3 linked regions of the Homo sapiens genome follow. The protein of the gene in region 1 interacts with the protein of each later gene in a biochemical or structural test. Each region holds a gene or a part of one and is shown on either strand. Other genes may lie near its edges.

The links.
Region 2: the proteins of TCERG1 (region 1) and HNRNPU form a complex in vitro, tested with the Homo sapiens proteins (one study listed by BioGRID).
Region 3: the proteins of TCERG1 (region 1) and WIPF2 form a complex in vitro, tested with the Homo sapiens proteins (one study listed by BioGRID).

Annotation. Positions count from the first base shown.
Region 1 is NC_000005.10:146,506,280-146,512,565, forward strand, and holds the end of TCERG1 (transcription elongation regulator 1), read left to right. Parts: intron 1-748; coding exon 749-928; intron 929-1,353; coding exon of another isoform or gene 1,354-1,461; exon of another isoform or gene 1,462-1,499; intron 1,500-1,593; coding exon 1,594-1,677; intron 1,678-2,865; coding exon 2,866-2,966; intron 2,967-3,787; exon of another isoform or gene 3,788-3,881; intron 3,882-4,161; coding exon 4,162-4,363; 3' UTR 4,364-5,682; downstream 5,683-6,286. UniProt on the Homo sapiens protein: Transcription factor that binds RNA polymerase II and inhibits the elongation of transcripts from target promoters. Regulates transcription elongation in a TATA box-dependent manner.
Region 2 is NC_000001.11:244,854,544-244,861,543, forward strand, and holds part of HNRNPU (heterogeneous nuclear ribonucleoprotein U), read right to left. Parts: intron 5,932-7,000; coding exon 5,792-5,931; intron 4,832-5,791; coding exon 4,732-4,831; intron 4,299-4,731; coding exon 4,186-4,298; intron 3,732-4,185; coding exon 3,468-3,731; intron 3,175-3,467; coding exon 3,055-3,174; intron 2,314-3,054; coding exon 2,185-2,313; intron 2,083-2,184; coding exon 1,914-2,082; intron 1,616-1,913; coding exon 1,361-1,615; intron 1,066-1,360; coding exon 881-1,065; intron 502-880; coding exon 430-501; intron 1-429. UniProt on the Homo sapiens protein: DNA- and RNA-binding protein involved in several cellular processes such as nuclear chromatin organization, telomere-length regulation, transcription, mRNA alternative splicing and stability, Xist-mediated transcriptional silencing and mitotic cell progression.
Region 3 is NC_000017.11:40,271,304-40,278,303, reverse strand, and holds part of WIPF2 (WAS/WASL-interacting protein family member 2), read right to left. Parts: intron 4,515-7,000; coding exon 4,305-4,514; intron 1,222-4,304; coding exon 1,120-1,221; intron 120-1,119; coding exon 79-119; 3' UTR 1-78. UniProt on the Homo sapiens protein: Plays an active role in the formation of cell surface protrusions downstream of activated PDGFB receptors. Plays an important role in actin-microspike formation through cooperation with WASL.

The DNA.
Region 1 (6,286 bases):
CTTTTAATGCCATTATCACCAATGAAGCATATCTTTTTGCTGGTTGGTGAGCCAGCCAGACCTGTTATGCCTTCTATTATACTGTCTTCTTCTTAAAAATTGTTTTGAGAAGTCATAATTGTATATACTTACGGGGTACAGTTGCTGTTTTGATATAGGTAGATAATATGGAATGATTAAACCAAAGCTGTTTAACATATTCATCACTTTGTTTGCTTATAATTTTTTGTGGTGAGACACTTGGAATTTACTCTCAGTTATTTTGAATGTAGAATACATTATTGGCTTTAGTTAACCCTGGTGTGCAGTAGGTCTCAAAACTTATTTCTGCTGTCTCTGAAACTTCATTATCTTTGACAAGTAACTCCTCATTCTCTCCCTTGTCCTGTCTCCTACCCCCTAGACTTTGGTGACCATCTACTCTCTATTTCTATGAGTTCAACTTTTTTGGATTCCACAAATGTGAGACTATGCAGTATTTGTGTTTCTGTGCTTGACTTATTTCACTTATGTTGTCCTCTAGGTTTATCCATGCCATAAATGAATAGAATTTTCCTCTTTTTTTAAGGCTGAGTGGTACTCCATTGTGTATATTTATTACATTTTCTTTATCCATGTATCTGTTGATAGACACTTAGGTTGATTCCATATCTTGGCTATTGTGAATAATGCTGCAGTGGACATGGAAGTGCAAATGGACATTCAGATAAGTCTCTTTGGTGATATATATATAATTTTTTCTCTTCAGGTACGTTCTTCAGATGTGTCATGGTCTGATACTCGTAGGACCCTCCGAAAAGATCACCGCTGGGAATCTGGATCCTTATTGGAAAGAGAGGAGAAAGAGAAGCTTTTTAATGAACACATTGAAGCACTTACCAAAAAAAAGAGAGAGCACTTTAGGCAACTTCTGGATGAAACTTCTGCAGTAAGAATCTCTTATTTTTCTCATTTTAATCTGGATGAATCTTGTTAGTAATTTCTTAAAGCAAAGCATTGATATGATTTTTAGTGTCATGGTCTTTAGATTCATTACTGGAATGCATCTTATGACAATTCTCTGATTTTAAAAAATTATGGTATTCTTATTTATTTAGAAATGCCTATTCTTTGCAGTTTTCACATTCATAACTGCTCCCATAGTAATTCAAAATGTCCTTAGCCATGTGGTCAGTGATCCCTCCTAATAATAGATTTAGCAAATTTCTTCTTTTGATCCATTTTCAATTTGGTACTATGGCCTCTTGTTCGGCAGTTTGTACGCTTTGTTATCCAGGTTTTGTTCCTTTTTATTTGCTCTCTTTTTGGTGATGGTTTCTTCAGAAGTTATGATGTTTGCCCATGTAAATACAGGGTTTGCAGGTGATTGTCTTAGGCCACCTTGAAAGTATGGCCATGAAAATAACTCTTGTGGCAAGCCAACAAAAAGAAATTGCATTAACGCTGCTTCCCTGTCCCTAACTAGTCCAGTTACGCTTGGGCATTACAAGAGATCGCAGGTCAGTGTGTAATATTATGTACCTATGTGCTGCAGTTTGACTCCCTAAGTAAAAGTGAGTTGTATTTATGTTTTTTATTCATGTCTTTTCAAAGATTACCTTAACATCCACGTGGAAAGAAGTAAAAAAAATCATTAAGGAAGATCCTCGATGTATTAAGTTCTCCTCCAGTGACAGGGTAAGAGGATTTTGTGTCGAGATTTACTGTCAGTCTATAAATACTTAAATCGGGGCCTAACAGCACTACTATCTTAACCAAAATGAAGTTGATTGTTTTAAGTGAATTACTTTTAAGTGTATGAGAAGTAAATCTGAATTTTAAGTTTATGTATTGTTTCTTGCATGATAAATTAGCAAGACAGCACAATAGAAAGTTTAAAATTTTAGTACTTGGGGTGAAGCTTGTATTTTAGGATCTTAGAAATTTAATGAAGCTGCAGTTTTATTTTAGTCAGGTACCACTAGACAGACATATTTAGGCTGGCAATTGGTACCAAACTATCAAAGCACTTGACTCTTAAGCCAAACAGAGCCCTGTAATGAGATCGCTAGTTCTCATATGCTTCAAGGTCTGAAACAGTGAATGATGTCAAGAAAAGTGTTGTTTACTACAGTCCATTTTATCCCTAGGCCTTTTATTTGTTTTCTTTTACATCATTCCCCTTTCCTGGTTGGTTTCTGTAGGTCTGGGCATCTTTTATAAAAACTCATAAATCTAATATTCTTCCCCCTCAAAGTCTATTGGATTGTAGATGTTTGGACCATAAAATATGCATGACTGGGAAAGAGGGGTAGACCCAGTCTCAGTTTCTAACTTTTCTGACTGTTTAGAATTGATAATAAAGTCTTTTTTAAGTCCAAAGAGTTTATTCATCTTATTACTTTTGGCTTGCCAGAAAGCTAAATGCTCATTACTGTGTAAGTTAAGTATTGAGTGTTAACCTACAGTTGCTGTATCCACAAATTACTCTTTTTGTTCTTGAAGTTAAAAATACAGTGTGCAGGAAGTGAACACTTAATCCTTAATATCCTTATTTTTAAGTGTCCACCTCATGAGGTTGTTGTGAAGATTGAAGTAGATGATCCTCATAAAATGCTCAGCAGTGTAGCACATAGCAAGTTCTCAAGTTTTAGCCACTACTAATTTATGATTCCTCATTCTTTCTATTTGCCGCAAAAATGAGCCTTGCAAATTGTGATTTAATGAATTTTATATATGAACAAAATGTACCCTGTTGCCTTTTTCTTTTGAATTTTAAATTTTATTATGTGACTTACACATTACTGTTTAATAAATAATTGATGTTTATTTTGGAATTAGTGGGTTTTATTTCCATAATCTCAACTTTTTTTTTTTTATTAACAGAAAAAACAAAGAGAATTTGAAGAATATATCAGAGACAAATATATCACAGCCAAAGCTGACTTCAGGACGCTTTTGAAAGAGACCAAATTTATAACATATAGGTGTGTGCAATGAAATGTTTCATATTGGCAGTCATTCTCTTTACTAGTCTTTACTCTAATGGTCAGAGCATTCTTTGCATTCACACACATGTTGACATTATTAATTTTTAGGGATAAGAAGATACCAACTTCTGTCCAAAGTCAAATACAGCCCATATCTACCATACTTTTTTTTTTTTTTAAAGAAAGGGCCCAGATGTCAATTCTTATTTTGTGTTACCCACCCATCCAGTTTTGAATACATACCTTTTTTTTTTTTTTACTTCACCGCTTTTTTTAGGAATACCCTCAACTATATAAGAATTGTATTTCATGAAGAGACTTTTAAAATAATCTTTCACTATCAGTTATCTTTGCCTCCTCTGAAGACTATTCAGTGTGGTTAGATCATTCTAAAGCATGAAATCATCTATTTAAGCTCAGCATAAACATTTTTTTTTCCCTCAGAGGAAAGCATTTTGCTGGGTACATTTAAATAAAAATTGTAAATTATGAAATCAGAGCCTTTAAACAAGATTTCTCTGTAGCAAACCCAACAGTTCTTCACCCCTAACAATTTATCATCAGGAAAACAATTTCGCATTGCTTACCAGTCAGTATGCAGGAAACCATTTTTGTTTCATGCTCCAGCTTTTCTTCTTTAAGAGAGAAATTTGAAACATCTTAATAAAGGGTATGTGCACGGGAGGCTAGATAGTGCTGAGGGTGTGGTTTTTAGATATTTTGTCATTTGGATTTTTTGGTCAGGATCCTTAATGTTTTGCATCAGCTTGGGCTTTTAAATTAGATGTGAAGTAAGACTTCTTTCTACATTTTTATAGTTAATTTAGTGAAAGATGTGAAAGTGAAAGCTTGTGAAAGATGCTGGGATTGGCAGCCCCGCAGACTGAAGTCCTCTGTTCATCCACAGAACAGGTACAGCACGGGCAAGATTTACCCACCCACCCTCAGCCCTGATCTGGAGGGACCACCACTAGGGGTGGGAGGGTAATTCAGCTTCTGAGGCCCTTTCACTCCTTGGAGTCTTTGCTGAGGCGACTTACAAAGGTGACCACTGCCGTGAAATTTTTCTTAAAAAAAAAAAAAAAAAAAAAAATGGAAACACAATTAGGAACTAGATGGACATTTCCAGCTCATTTCTGAAAGACCTGTGAACAGCAGTCAGTAATTCTTGGACTTCTTTTTCTTATTTCAGATCCAAAAAATTAATCCAAGAATCAGATCAGCACCTGAAAGATGTAGAAAAAATTTTACAGAATGACAAACGGTATCTAGTACTGGACTGTGTGCCAGAGGAGAGGCGTAAACTGATTGTGGCATATGTTGATGACCTGGATCGCCGGGGTCCACCCCCACCTCCCACAGCATCGGAGCCCACGAGACGATCAACAAAATAATTCTAAATACTCTTCCATAGGGGCATCTATTCAAAATGCTTGCATGAGCCAATTTTCAGGTTTTTACATATATGTGCATTAGTCAACCTATTGCGAAACCATCTGACAAACAGAAGGAGAAGCATTTGTGAACAGTTTCTGAACAGAACACTTTGGAAATATTTATGCTTTTCTTTGTGTGGCATGACTGACATACATACTCAAATATAGGCTGTCTCTAGTAAATCTTAAAATCTTGAAGCTAAAATTCATCCTTTTATGAGGTGTGGAAGTCAGTGACTTGGTGACGTTCTTCCTAGCAGTGTTAATACATGCAAGAAGTAAGAGCATTTGTGGCTTGAACTTGCCAGATGCAAATACCACAGACTCCAAGAAAACCCGAGTTGGGGTTTGTTTTGTTTTGATTTTTTTTTTTTAAAGCGGGTAAAAGAGAAAACACTGAAAATTGAATTCTTATCTTCCAGAGGCTACAATTATTATAATGGACAATACTTTTACCTTTGTCTCTAAAGATCAGATTAGTTTTATTTGTTCACTTACGTGCTTTGATTATCCCCTCTGAATTATAGACCGAGTCTTGTTGTTTAGCCTAAGAGAAGATTTATGTAGTAATTTCTTCTCAGGTATGGAACCACGGTCATAACTAACATGTTGGCCAGAATAGAACCACTGGTTAAACATATTTTATTCACCATTAAGTGATCTTTATCAATATTCTGGATTAGACAACAAATTACCTTTCTGGGTGTTTCTTGTAAACTATACTCCTGTTTGAATGTTAAACTTTGTTGCTAAAGTTTAATTTTAAGATGTTTGAATGTTCAGTTTATGTATTTGAACTACAATAAACCAACCCTTTTTATATATCTGTATTGTATATGATTATTGTTACTTAATTTTTAAGAGCTTATTTTAACCTGTTTTTAAAAGCAGCAAATAGAATTTCCCACAAAGTAAGTTGACTCTAAATCTTAAGTATTACCTAGTTTTTAAAGGTTTGAATATAATAATGCAGTATTTGCAGTATAAAAAGGAAGGAATTTGTAGAGAATCATTTTGGTGCTCAAGTCTCTTAGCAGTGCCTTATTGCCTCATAGCAAGAAGATGCTGGGGTTTTTTTTGTTTTTGTCCTTTGTATTAATGTATGATGGTTTGCGCCTTTTTGGCATTCTTTCAACATGTCGTGTACATCACACCATGAATCAGTTCCTAATTGATATATCTAGCTTTACCTCCCGAGTTAAAAAAAAATCTTTTTATTTTATGCCTTCATAGGTTGCTCGTTTCAGAGTGCCACATAAATAAAATGTTTAACAAAATATATATGTTAATAGAATAATTTATTTTCCATTATCTCATACCGACTATGATTGTAACAAATCCTAGAAAGAAGGAATACCAACAGATCTGTATTTGTATGTTGTGTGCATACAGTCACAGACACACACATTCACATCCATGTTATATAGTTCATAGCTTAAATCTATTAAGTGCCATGGAAATTTTGTGAACTCTTTATGTAGGAACCTGGCATTGATCAGACTAAGGTCTTCAGCTGTAAAGTTGATAAACAGGATATGTTTTTTCTTTTTATGCGTACAAAGGATCTTACTCTGTCTCCTAGGCTGGGGTGCAGTGGTGCCATCATAGCTCACTGTAACTTTGAACTCCTGGTTTCAGTGATCCTTCTGAGTAGCTGAGACTGCAGGCATGCATTACCATGTCTGGCTTTTTTTTTTTTCTTTTTAAAATTTTTTTGGAAATGGTTTCACTCTGTTGCCCAGGCTGGCCTCAAACTCCTAGCCTCAAGCCATTCTCCCACCTCGGCCACCCAAAGTGCTAGGATTACAGGCGTCAACCGCCACACCTGGCCGCCTTCTGTTTCCTTTTTTTTCTTTCTTTGAAGTTCATTTTATAAGTTCA
Region 2 (7,000 bases), on another chromosome or scaffold:
AAGCCACTCAAACTGTTTTTAGGAAATGACAATGAATCTAATTCAGAGTAATTTGCTGGAAACAAATTTATACCTGTCATACCTCTGATTTCTACCAAACCAGATTTAGTTTTAATATCCCATAATTATCAATACACATTACAAAACGAAACATCATGACTTTGTTAGTTTACACAATTAAAGCTAGCAGTAAAAGAACTGTATATATTAAATAATATTACTTTATTAAAAAAATTTAACTTATAGCAATCTTCAACCTATTTTGCCTTCAAAAGGTAGATTATGGCTACTACTGCAAGACGATTCACACTTTACCCTATTAACACTTATAAACACTTCAATCCCTGAACAAGATCTTTTTCAAGACTGATAAATCTTAGGAACTCAAAATACAATTAATGTACATAAAGCACATAAGAAATTACTTACACCCTGCTGCCACTGGTTGTAGCCCTGAGATTGATTTTTGTAGCCACGATTGTTTCCTCGTCCTCTGAAGTTCTACAAAAAGGAAATACTCTCTAAGAGCTCTGAGCCCAATTGCTTGTTAGGTTTGTGGGGGTGAGAGAGAGGAGCAGAAATGGACAGGTTGCTAGCCCCTAATCTTAGGTAGCAAGCAATACACAAATTCTGGATACCCTCTGCTGGTTTCTTATGTTTTAATTTTTTATTCATTATGAGAAATGCATCTGACTTGTTTAGTACACCTGAAAAAACTCAAAAGTAAGTAGACTCATTTCACCATTACTAGTTCAATTTTCCTTATGTCAATGCCTATCATGTTCCTTACGGATTACTAAGACACCCCAACATAAAGCTCACACCTTTCCAGACTAAGCTACAGTTATCAATCATGCTTCCAGGGATCTTGAATCATTACCTGGTTGTAGTTCCCTCTGTTGGGCATTCCACCTCTGTTGTAGTTCCCTCTGTTTGAGTAACTACCACGGCCAGGAAAAACAGGGGCACGAGGGTATGGATAGCCGATTCCACCACTTCCTCCACCGCCACCACCTCTCTGTGGCATGTTGCCCCTCCTATTATATCCGCCACGATTCCCAGGGGCTAAAAGACAAGAGCTGTTTTAGTTTCATTGTATATTGTACCCTACTTATACAGAAGACTTAGGATTCCTCTAGATTGTTCCTTTTTCTCCAAAAATAATTGTTTAAAGACAAAAGAAATGTTTAATTCTAACCATTAACATAACCTAGGTGTATTTAATATCAAATCACATGAATACTTTAGTTACTGTGACAGTATACCATTAATGAGGAAGAAACTTCAGCTACATCCAAACTATAAAATTATCACTTGTTTCGATCCTGAACTAAATACAGAACACTCAAAATTAACTTGCCTCCTCCTCTGAAATTTCCACCACGCATATTGAATCCTCCACGTCCTCTATGGCCACCACCTCTGTTAAACTGGTTCTTGCCACTCTTATTTTTATTGCTTTTCTTTGAGCCAGTGTTCTGTTTCTTTTCTGGTGGAAGAGCCTTTTTGCTTTCTTCCTTATATTGCTCCAAGAGTTTTTGGGCTTCTTCCTTCTGAAGTTCAACATAGGTTATTTCATCAAAGCACTCAGCTACCTCTGGGAGGGTAAAGTTTCCTGCAGGAAACAAAGTCATATTATTAATTTAGAAACCCACCACGAATCCTCACAATCCTAAAGCTGACAATTCTTGAGGTTTAGTAACATATTTTCCTAAAAATAAAAACAGACCAAACATATATGCATATGTAACAACTGCAATTTTAATTCCTGAAGCAGTATTGCTGGAAAAAATGTTAACTTTCAGGAGGCCTAAGTCCTAATAGATTTAACATAGTTACACAAGCAGAATATGTAGGAAAAACATTCTTTTAAAAAGAAGATTTCACACAGTAACAGAATTAAAATTCCATGCCTTTCATTTTGAGGACCGCATGTTCTGGTAGGTCTTTCCCCTCTACTTCTGCTTTCTTCTGTGTTCTTTGCTTATAGTCTTCATCTTTTGGGCAAACTACAACAGCTTTTCGCTGGAAGCCTGCAAACAGGCACATTTTTCTCCTCTGGGCAGCAGCAGACACATTTGTCTTTAAAAAAAGAAATTTATGTTTACAACCCTAAACATTAATTCTACACCAATCTATCTAAATTATCAGTTAATATTTTTCAATTTCAAAGCTACAGCGTACCTGATCCAGAATAAAATTTCGCTTCTTTCGGGCAGCAATCTCAATAAATTTCCCAAGACACTGGGGGGCTCTCTGCAACAGTGTGTTCAGTTTTCCAGTATCTGCCATTTGCTTCTTAAAACCTGCCACCTATATTCAAAAGTTAAAATTTCCCCTTGAACTTGTGAATTTTAATAAGTTATGCTTTTTAAAATTCAACTCATATCTATATGTAAAGCAGGCAACATTTTATAATTTAAATATTACCTTTGTCCATTATTGCTACAAAAACAGGGTCACTTAAACTATGTAACAAGACCTTACACTTACTCAATTCTTTTTAGCTGCTAGATGTTAAGAGCTCAAAAACACTACGGAAAAAAACAGAAGCCTAGCCAGTGGAAGGCAGTTTACCCTCAGAGTTGAAAGAACCAACTTAATCTTGCCTTTCCTCCCATCTCTTTAAGATACTAACAAAATGGATAGAGACAAAGACAAAAAGTTTACCTAGAATACCTCCCGGTCTATAATTTTTCTTTTCTTTTTTTTTTTTTTCTGAGACGGAGTGTTGCTCTGTCGCCCAGACTGGAGTACAATGGCACGATCTCAACTCACTGCAACCTCTGCCTCCCAGGTTCAAGTAATTGTCCCTGCCTCAACCTCCCGAGCAGCTGGGATTACAGGAACCCACTACCACACCCAGCTAATTTTTAAATTTTTAGTAGGAACGGGGCTTCGCCATGTTGGCCAGGTGGGTCTCAAACTCCTGACCTCAGGTGATCCATCCACCTCAGCCTCTCAAAATGCTGAGATTACAGGCGTGAACCACCATGCCCAGCCTCTCCCAGTCTATTTTAAACACTGAGATCAGGCCCTAAACATTTTACTTACCATCATCTTATCCATAATAGTATTTGTGCCAAGAATGTTATATTTCCCTGGATTTTCTGCTGCATGTTTAGTAACCCAGGTAGTTTTTCCAGCTCCTGGCAAGCCAATCATCATCACAACCTAGTGAAAAGAAAAGAAATGTCATTTCACTGTCAGTAGACACCACCTAATAATTCTTTAAATATTGTTAAGGCCAATTTAAATATCTAAGTTTTCATAGCCCTTACACTAACGGACAAAAATTTGTTTATGGAAAGATTAACAGTCAACATAAGGGGGAAACAATTACTTAAGAGCAATATGCACAGCACAAAGTAAATGAAACAGACTAATCATCTAGTTCTTCTAAATGTCATTTTGTGCCAGGCAAGCAATATTCAAATGCCACAGTTAAAAAAAAAAAAATCCCTTACTTCACAATCTTTCTTCTCTTCAGGCCCCTTTGGTCCTCTAACTCGATCCTCTAAGGGGACGTTCTGGATGAAAGTATACTCTTCAGGTATTGGAAAATATGGCTTTTCCTTCTGACCAAAATTAAATTCAACTGCACAGTTGTGGCAGAGAACATGCGGGAACAGTGGCCGTCCAGCAAGAACTTCCTTACTGATTTTGAAGGCAACGCCAAGATCTTGTCCATTCTTAGCATACGAGAGTTCTACTTCATCACTTTCAAAGTTCTGTTACACAGAAAAAAATTCAACAGTTAAAATCTGCTTCCTTAAACTTTCTAAAAAACTAAGAATTAAAATTAGGAGCAAAGCTTATCCTGTGGAAGCTACAGGTTAAAGAACTATTAGGTGGCCTTTAAGGGCTACACAGTTAAGAAATCTGATGGTTGTAAACCATGAAGCACGTATCTCCAGAACCAGAAACAATACTGACCTAGAAGCTAGACTGAATTTTCTAGGTCAATTTCATGTTCACTGTTTTCAGTCAAAATGAATTAGTGAGTTCCTCAAAAATGTCCTGTGTTTTCCCAATTCAACTGCTGAATGAAGTCTTTACACTAATCCAGGGACTGGTGTATTTTGTTGCTCATATTGAAAACTGACCTCAGTAAAGCTTCTTTAAAGTTCCTAGATATAGCTACTAACTTTGCCATTTATACATAGAAAGTTAGCTTTAACTTACAGCAAAACATGTAATCACATCATTTTCATCAAACTTTTCTCCATAATCTTCAGTCTCACAGTTGCATGTTTTTATTCCTTTTAGAGAATACCCATAAGAAAATTCTTCTTCACCTAAGAAAATAATTAATCTTCATGAAGTAGATGTTTAAAATAGTCCAAAGACTCATCTATTTTACTACTTAAGATGTAGGCTACAAGAGAAATAAGCATATAACCTAATCACCTGTCACTGACACTATTACTTTTCTATCTCTGTACCAGAATTGATGGAAGTTAGGAGGGATATATACGCAGAGACCAAATTAGTTGACGATTTGCATATCACGGGTAAGATTTTATTTCAACCATTGGTCATAAACTTCTAATAAAGGAACAAAAACTAAAATGTAGCCTGTGCCTACTATGTGCTAATATTACCTGTCTGAAGTATTAACAGAATAGATAAAAACAGACAAAAGGCTTAGAATGCCCTCTAGTTAAAAAACACTGAAATCAGACCCTCCTGAACATTCATGAGCCCACATCAGTCAAAAAGAAGCTTTACCAAGTAACATTCCACTTGTAGTTAGTGACCAGCCAATACGAACTTCATGTATGTCAATATCTTTTGTATATAAATGCCTTACTGGGATCTTCTCTGTAACCTGAAAGTCAAATCATTAAATAATTAAAATAATACACCAAGGAGGTAACCCCTTAACTCTCGCATATTTCATTGCGCCACGGGCTAATCTTCCTCTAGCTATAAATACAAAGAAGGCACACTCTAGCCCACCCCCAATATTTGTAAGAACTTTAAACTGATGTGCTTATAACTTGAAATTTAAAGAGTTAAATACTTATTTGACCCATATTTAAAAGAATACTTAATATTTTTAAAGTTCATGTTGTCAGTCTTTAACTTAAAGCCAATTAAAGGATACAATTAATGTTTTTCTCACCAACAAAAGCAGTAATGTAACCAAATTTTATTTTTAACTCTTTGGTGGCCCTTTCAAATGCTTGATAAAAATGAAGTACCCTAAATAAAAAATCGCCTAGCTCTGCATGGCAAGTTCTAACATAACAACCGTGATTAACTGTCACAACAAAATGAAGGTTCCAAGCTCCTCTTTTAATTTACAGGAAGCTTCAAAAATAAGTACCTTTGATAACTTAGCAGTATGAAGCACCTGTAATTCCAGCATTCTGAGAGGCTCAGGCGGGCAGATCACTTGAGCTTAGGAGTTCAAGACCAGCCTGGGCAACATGGTGAGACCTTGTCACTATTTTAAAAAGGAAAAAAAAAGGCTGGGCACAGTGGCTCATGCCTGTAATCCCAGCACTTTGGGACGCCGAGACAGTGGATCACCTGAGGTCAAGAGTTGGCGACCAGCCTGGCCTACGTGGTGAAACCCCATCTCTATTAAAAATACAAAAATTAGCCAGGTGTGGTAGTGTGTGCCTCTAGTCCGAGCTACTTGAGAGACTGAAGCAAGGAGAATCGCTTGAACCCAGGACGCGGAGGTTGCAGTGAGCCTAGGTCGCACCACGGCAATCCAGCCTAGGGAACAGAGTGAGACTGTCTCCACAAACAAACAAACAAATCATAAAATTGCATTTACCTTCATCTCAAAACACACTTTGCCTTTTGACACACCATAGGATGCTCTTCCTCCAGCCCAAAGAAAAGCAAAACTCTCCATTGTAAGGGAAGAAGCACTGAGACGATCTCTTGATATTTTAAAATGTAGATCACAATTATCTGTAATTATATCAAATACTGTGTTACTTTTGACATCCAATGTAAACATATCTGCTATGTAGACAAAACTTGGTTACTTAATTTTTGCATGTACTTCTTAATGCTGCACAACTTTTCTCCACATCATGCTGTTGTTCCAATTTTCAGTTTAAAGCCCCACTCCCACCAAGTCACTCCTGTTAAATTATGTACTGAAAAGTAAACTGCCTGTGAAACTAATACCAAGGTTTAACATGTATATTTTAAGTATTTAAAATAATCAAGACAATGTGACATTAATACATACCTGCTCTGCTCTTTACCTTGATTTAGAGGCAAGCAGTAGAGGATAGCAGGAAATCAAAGTGAAGCATGCCAGAACCAGGTAGATTTACCAGTGCCACATTAAAACTGAAGGGAGGCCACGACCAAATTATTTTAAAATAGGAGTATGAGCTGCTGTTGATCCTGCACCAGGGCTCTAGCTCCTAAATTCTTTTTCTAAAACTTGTGAAGAAGACAGCCTAAAACTATGAAGTACAAACCTGGCCGTCTAATGCTGTTAATAGTGCAGCATTTTAGGTCCTCTTTACCCAGGACTGCCTGTTCAACAATTAGGGATTAATTGCTTCCCGGATTATCCAAATCCAAAGTGTCTTTAACCCAGCTACCTATGGGTCACTGGCTCATTAACATGCACTTCCTCAGACTTCTCACTTGAACAGCTAAAGTCAAGCTGGAACTCATTTTCTTTTTACTGATCAGAGAAAAATAAATCTACAGTTTGGAATTTTTCTTAAATTAGAGTTATTCTAATCAACAGAATTTAATTCAACAGATTGTTTGAATTCAACATTGTACTTATATTGACATATTCCTGATTTGCTAAAAAATCTAACAATTACATTACCTGTGTGAGTCACCACTTCACTACCTTGCCAATTCCTAGCAACTTATTTATACAACCCAGAATTTCACTAAAACTTTCACATCAACTAACTCCTTTTTCACCTGCAGTTTTTTCTTTTAAAAAGGCTCAGATGACTATCTCAACCTTCTGTAAAGGATATTCCAGTAAGAAAGAGTTTTA
Region 3 (7,000 bases), on another chromosome or scaffold:
TTTCAGGGGAATGGAAGGGACCATCTGAGAAGAAGAGAAGGTCCATCCTTTTCCTGAGGAACGGGACCAAGCCAGGCTTCACCTGAGAATGGGTGGCAGAGGTGGGGCTCCACGGGCAGCTGAAAAAAAACAAAATAAAGACCACACACATACAGGTCACCCACCAGAATCTGAACAACCCACACATTCCTAAAATGAGAGACAGGCTCTTTAAGCTAACCTTTAAAATCTGGGGACTACGTGTTATTATTGTTTTGCCTAAGAAAATGAAGATGAGTGGCCAGGCAAGGTGGCTCACGCCTGTAATCCCAGCACTTTGGGAGGCCGAGGCGGGCGGATCACCTGAGGTCAGGAGTTTCAGACCAGCCTGGCCAACCAGGCAAAACCCAGTCTCTACTAAAATTACAAAAATAATCCGGCATGGTGGCACACGCCTATAATCCTAGATACTTGGGAGGCTTAAGCAGGAGAATCACTTGAACCTGGGAGGCAGAGGTTTGGGGTGAGCCGAGATGGCACCACTGCACTCCAGCCTGGGTGACGATAGGGAGACCCTATCTCAAAAAAAAAAAAAAAAAAAGGACAACGAAGATGATGAGAAGCAATTTTTTTTCTTTTTTTTTGAGACGGAGTCTCCCTCTGTCACCCAGGCTGGAGTACAGTAGCGTGATCTTGGCTCACTGCAACCTCCGCCTCCTGGGTTTAAACAGTTCTCCTGCCTCAGCCTCCCGAGTAGCTGGGACTACAGGTGTGTGCCACCACGCCCAGCTAATCTTTTGTATTTTTAGTAGAGACGGGGTTTCACCGTGTTAGCTAGGATGGTCTTGATCTCCCGACCTCATGATCCGCCCACCTCAGCCTCCCAAAATGCTGGGATTATAGGCATAAGCCACCGCGCCCAGCCTAATTTTGTATTTTTAGTAGAGACAGGGTTTCATTATGTTGGTCAGGCTGGTCTCGAATTCCTGACCTCGTGATCCACCCACCTTGGCCTCCCAAAGTGCTGGGATTATAGGTATGAGCCACTGTGCCCAGCGAGAAGCAAATTTTAACCTAAGAAAATGCACAGATTCTACATTCTATGCAATTATGGAAAAACCTTCTTATTATTATTCTCACCTCGGTTTGTTTTGCTGGGATATATCCTCTGAAAGTGTTTATATTCTTCTGGAGCAGGAAAGTCTTCTACTGGATGGAAGGAATACTTTGACTCAAAATCATCTGCGAAAAGAATAGAACATTAATTCCTATCATCCTTGCTTGTGCTCCCACAGGCCTCTGATCGCTTCGACCCTCCCCACTTACTAATCTCTCAGGCATTCTGAGGTACTGTGAGGACCTACTGCCCCACCAAACCAACCACCCTGAGAACAGCAGCAGCATCACCCCACGTGCCTTGCATGCACAGAGCATGTATTCAAAACCTCTCTGTACTAAGTAGTGCGTCTTTGAGCCCATTCTTTATTTATTTATTTTTTGACAGTCTCGCTCTGTCACCCAGGCTGGAGTGCAGTGGTGCCCACCACCTCACCCGGCTAGTTTTCTGTATTTTTAGTAGAGACGGGGTTTCACCATCTTGGCCAGGCTAGTCTCAAACTCCTGTGCTCAGGCAATCTCCCCACCTGGCCTCCCAAAGTGCTGGGATTACAGGTGTGAACCACGCCTAGCCTGAGCTGATTCTTTAAACCTTTCCACCAAGTCAGGCACAGAACAGGAAAGGAGCTCAGTTGTTTGCATGGTAGCAGAAAGAAATATAATTCTTTTTTTTTTTTTTTTTTTTTTTGAGACGGAGTCTCACTCTGTTGCCCAGACTGGGGTGCGGTGGCATGATCTTGGCTCACTGCAACCTCCACCTCCCAAGTTCAAGCGATTCTCCTGCCCCAGCGTCCCTGAGATTACAGGCAGGCACCACCACACCTGGCTAATTTTTGTATTTTTAGTAGAGATAGGGTTTCACCATGTTGGCCAGGCTGGTCTTGAACTCCTGACCTCAGGTGATCCACCTGCCTCGGCCTCCCAAAGCGCTGGGATTACTGGCGTAAGCCACCAGGCCCAGCCAATTCTGGGTTTTAATAACATCTTACAGACTGTCACCACGGGAAAACAACTGATCTAAATCCAGAAATTGGTAGGAATTAATTTAAAATGGGAATATCTGTCTATGACTAGTGAGAGATTTGACCAGATGATTCCCTTTCAGTCCATGTTACCTTCACTTACATAGTTGGGACAGCCATCTCATGGCTTCTACTACTACTTTCTACAGCCCCTCCATCAGAAAGCTCAAATTTTCTGTAAGTGCGGCTTGATCACATCCCAAAGGTTTCTACAATAAGGATATATCTTTAAAGCAAAAACCCTGGCATACCTAATAGGAATAGACTAGAACATGGAGGACAGTGGGTAGGTAAGGACAGCAACCATTAAAGAATCTAGAAGCTGGGCATGGTGGCTCATGCCTGTAATCCCAGCACTTTGGGAGGCCAAGGTGGGTGGGTAGCTTGAGCCCAGGAGTTTGAGACCAGTCTGGGCAACATGGCAAAACCTCATCTCTACAAAAAAAATACAAAATTAGCCAGGCATGGTGGTGCACACCTGTGGTCCCAGCTACTTGGAAGGCTGAAGGATGGGAGGATTGCTTGAGCCTGGGAGGTCGAGACTGCGGTGAGCCGTGATTGCGCTACTGCACTCCAGCTTGGATGACAAAGCAAGACGCTATCTCAAAAAAAAAAAATCTAGAGTGTTAGGGTTGCAAGGGACCTTTCAGAGATTTCTTCCAAGGGTCCTCAACAGACGGGTCTAACAATAGCCTATGGACAACCTTTACTTAGGGTTACATCCCAGAACCAAGGAATCAGAATCTCTTAGGTAGAGCCCCCCCAACATTTATAATCTTGGAAAAGTTAATCTGATACACTTCTGATCTAGTCAACCTAATTTTACAAATAAGGGAAGTGAGGCCCAGAGAAGTAACGTGACTTCCTCAAAATAACACTGCTAGTTAGTGGCTTTGGATTAATGTGTGTAATGTTTTGGGTTTTGTTTTTTTTTTTTTTTTTTTTTGAGACGGAGTCTTGCTCTGTCACCCAGGCTGGAGTGCAGTGGCACAATCTTGGCTCACTGCAACCTCCACCTCCTGGGTTCAAGAGATTCTCCTGCCTCAGCCTTCTGAGTAGCTGGGATTATGGCTGCGTGCCATCATGCCCAGTTAATTTTTTATATTTTTAGTAGAGATGGGGTTTCACTATGTTAGCCAGGCTGGTCTCAAACTCCTGACCTCAGGTGATCCGCCTGCCTCGGCCTCCCAAAGTACTGCGATTACAGGCGTGAGCCACTGCACCCAGCCGACTTTTTTTTTTTTTTTTTTTTTTTGAGACAGATTCTCTCTCTGTCGCCCAGGCTGGGGTGCAGTGATGTGATCAATGGTTTGCTGCAGCCTCAACCTCCCTGGACTTAGGCAATCCTCCTGAGTAGCTGGAAACACAGGCGTGTGCCACCACACCCAGCTAATTTTTGTATTTTTTAGAGAGATGAAGTTCCACCATGTTGCCCAGGCTGGTCTTGAGTTCCTGGGCTAAAAGCAATCCTCCCACCTTGGCCTCCCAAAGTGCTGGGATTACAGGCATGAGCCACCACGCCCAATCCTTTTTTCTTTAATATTTTTTGTCATTCTTTCTTCTTTTTTCTTTCCAGGCAATGTGCCATGGGACTTTTCTTTTTTTTTTTTTTTTTTTTTTTTTTTTTTTCAAGAATTCCAAGGAAAGGCTGGATGTGATGGCTCACATGTGTAATCCCAGCACTTTGGGAGGCCAAGGTTGGAGGACTGCTTGAGACCAGGAGTTTGACAGCGGCCTGGGCAACAGAGACCCAGTCTCTATAAAAAATAATTAAAAAATAATAATTCCAAGAACAATCAAGTGTTTTGTTTTTGAAGAGCTAGAAAGGAACACTCCTTCCTAGGAGAATACATAAGTCCTGTCTGAATAATCCTAAAGAAGATACAGAGTCTCTGACCTAAAAGCTAGCTACAAAAAGTGATCTTTGGAGTGGATTTAGAGTTAGCACAACACTTGCTGATTTTACTTCAATCTACTCCAAAGCATCCATGCTTAGAATTCATATCAAGATAAGGAAGTCAATGAACACAGCCCATACCTCTGAGGATGAAGTCAGCAGGAGAACTATTGTGAACAAAGGATCCCATGTGGCCATTCCCACTCTATGGTGGCCATCTAGCAGCCATGGCACTGGAGTGGGTGAAGTCACCGCAGGAACCATGAGACTACAGATAGCTAGCTACTCACCCAAGAAAGACCGGACAGTGGTGATAGAATCTCTGTGGCCATTCCTCAGGGGCGGTGGAGGAGGAGGGGGTGGCCCAGCTGGCGTCCTTGAGGGTGGAGGTGGGGGCTTTCCTCGGCTCGGGGGTTCTGACCCATGCATTCGGTATGGTGGTGGGGGAGGGGGAGCATCCCTGGCACCATTTCGGATCACAGGTGGTGGGGGTGGAGGAGCTGCAATTAAAATCCAAAGTAGTTAGGTTTGGATGTGGAGACGGCAAGGGGTAGAATGACTTGAAACACATGAGCTAAAAGAGTAACACACCCCACAGAGGCTCACAGTGCCTGGTTCCCCTTTGTCCTTATTACTTGAACAGCATCACCATTCTTCCAGATACCAACATTCAGAATAAATGTATGGCCTTTTTACATTTCCTACCAGTCAGTCAGAACCCTATCTGTTCTTGATTTTTTTCCTGCTTTTCCATGCCTTCCTCCACAATTCTAATTCAGGTCTTCCTTATATTTAGCCTGTTCTCTACTGCAAAAGCCTTCCGAATGTTCTCCTTGCTTTGTCTCTTACCCCTCCAAATTCATTTTGCATAACACCAACTCACCAACCTCCCTAAAAACTTGATCCAGTTTTTTCAAAGGCTTTGCACTGCCTAAATCATAAAGTCTCAAACTGTGGCTGGGTGTGATGGCTCACGTCTATAATCCTAGCACTTTGGGAGGCCGAGGCGGGAGGATTGCCTGAGCTCAGCAGTTGGAGACCAGCCTGGGCAACATGATGAAACTCCATCTCTACTAAAAATACAAAAAATTAGCCCGGTGTGGTGGCGTGTGCCTGTAGTCCCAGCTCCTCAGGAGGCTGAGGCACAAGAATCACTTGAACCTGGGAGGTGGAGGTTGCAGTGAGCCCAGATTGTGCCACTGCACTCCAGCCTGGGCAACAGAGAGAGACTCCATCTCAAATACATAAATAAGTAAAAAAATAAAGTCTCAAAGCCTTTGCTTACATAGTAACCTACCACACCAATCAGCTTGAGCTTGGCTTCTCCTCTTCCCTTCTTATTGCTAGGCTAGGTTAGGAGCCCTCCTCTGCACTTCCACTGCAGCTTGTGCATACCTACCACTTGAATAGACTATTATAATTATTTATTCTGTGTGCTCTTTCCCCAGTATACTGTGTACCCCTTGATGTCAGAGCAGTTCCTCCTTCTGGGTTCCCAAGTTCAGCCAAATGTACAGCACACAGCAGGTGCTCAATCAATGTTTGCTGAATAAACCAAATTATATGCTTTGCTCTTGTGACTCCCCTCACAATATTCTGATATCCCCCCTTCCCTTACTACCAAATCCTCCCTACCCTTCAAGGTTCAATCCAAGTCCCATCTTCTCAAGGCTTTCCCAAAGCAATCCATTTTCTTCTGAGTCCCTCCACCTCTGCTCTCCCACAGCATATACAGGCTATGTCACTTACTCTAATATCAATGAGCGATTTTCAAAATATATACAGCAGATTCATTGTGGGAAGTTACATATGTCCAGTAACAGTCTCATTGCTCAAACACTGCAAACACCTCTTTTGGAATTGCCTCCAAAGCAAGTTTATCAGTCAGAGCTGTAAACACTATTATATGATGGTCACATTTCATTTCTGAGGTCGCCCCACCACCATCACCAATGAAAATATTCATACCTATGCCAGGCACGGTGGCTCACGCCTGTAATCCCAGCACTTTGGGAGGCCGAGGCGGGAGGATCACCTGAGGTCGGGAGTTCGAGACCAGCCTGATCAACATGGAGAAACCCAGTCTCTATTAAAATACAAAAATTAGCCAGATGTGGTGGTGCATGCCTGTAATCCCAGCTACTCGGAAGGCTGAGGCAGGAGAATTGCTTGAACCCAAGAGGCGGAGGTTGCGGTGATCCAAGATCGTGCCATTGCACTCCAGCCTGGGCAACAAGAACAAAACTCTGCCTCAAAAAAAAAAAAAAGAAAATGTTCATACCTATGTCTGAATCTGCTTTTTGGTGATTCCAAAAATCAAATTCACTCTTAAAAGATGAAAATTTGCCACCAAGTAGAAGGTAACGTCAAAAGCATGTGTCAAGAAATGGCAATATGACTGGAATATAATAGATTCTAACGTGTTTGTCTTACTCCTATGCTCTGTATTAACTAACAATAATAGCAGCTACCATTTATTGGGTATCTATTATGTTCCAGGCATTTTCGGTGTATTAAATCTTTAAAAAGTCTTATAGCCACACATGCGAAGTATGTAATATTATCCCCATTTCACAAATGAGAAAACTGGGACTCAGGTTATTTGTTTAAGGTCACAGATCAAATAAAAATAGGCAAGGCACATGTCTGCTCTTTCTACTCTCCCACACTGCTTTTCGTAACTCCCAGTATTCTGCATAGTATCTTCCCAACCAGATTTACAATCCAGTGGCTTGGAAGTGCATCTTTTGGTATCTAGGCCATGTTCAATTTTTTTTTTTTTTTAAGAGACAGGGTCTCACTCTGTCACCCAGGTTAAAGCGCAGTGGTGGAATCATAGCTCAGTGCAGCTTCAAACTCCTGGGCTCAAGCAATGCTCCCGCCTCAGCAAAGGGCTGGGATTATAGGCATGTGCCACAGCACGTGGCCCAATAAATAGTTGTGACCTAAATAGTATGTGAAGAGACTACTCAGCTTAACAGACAAA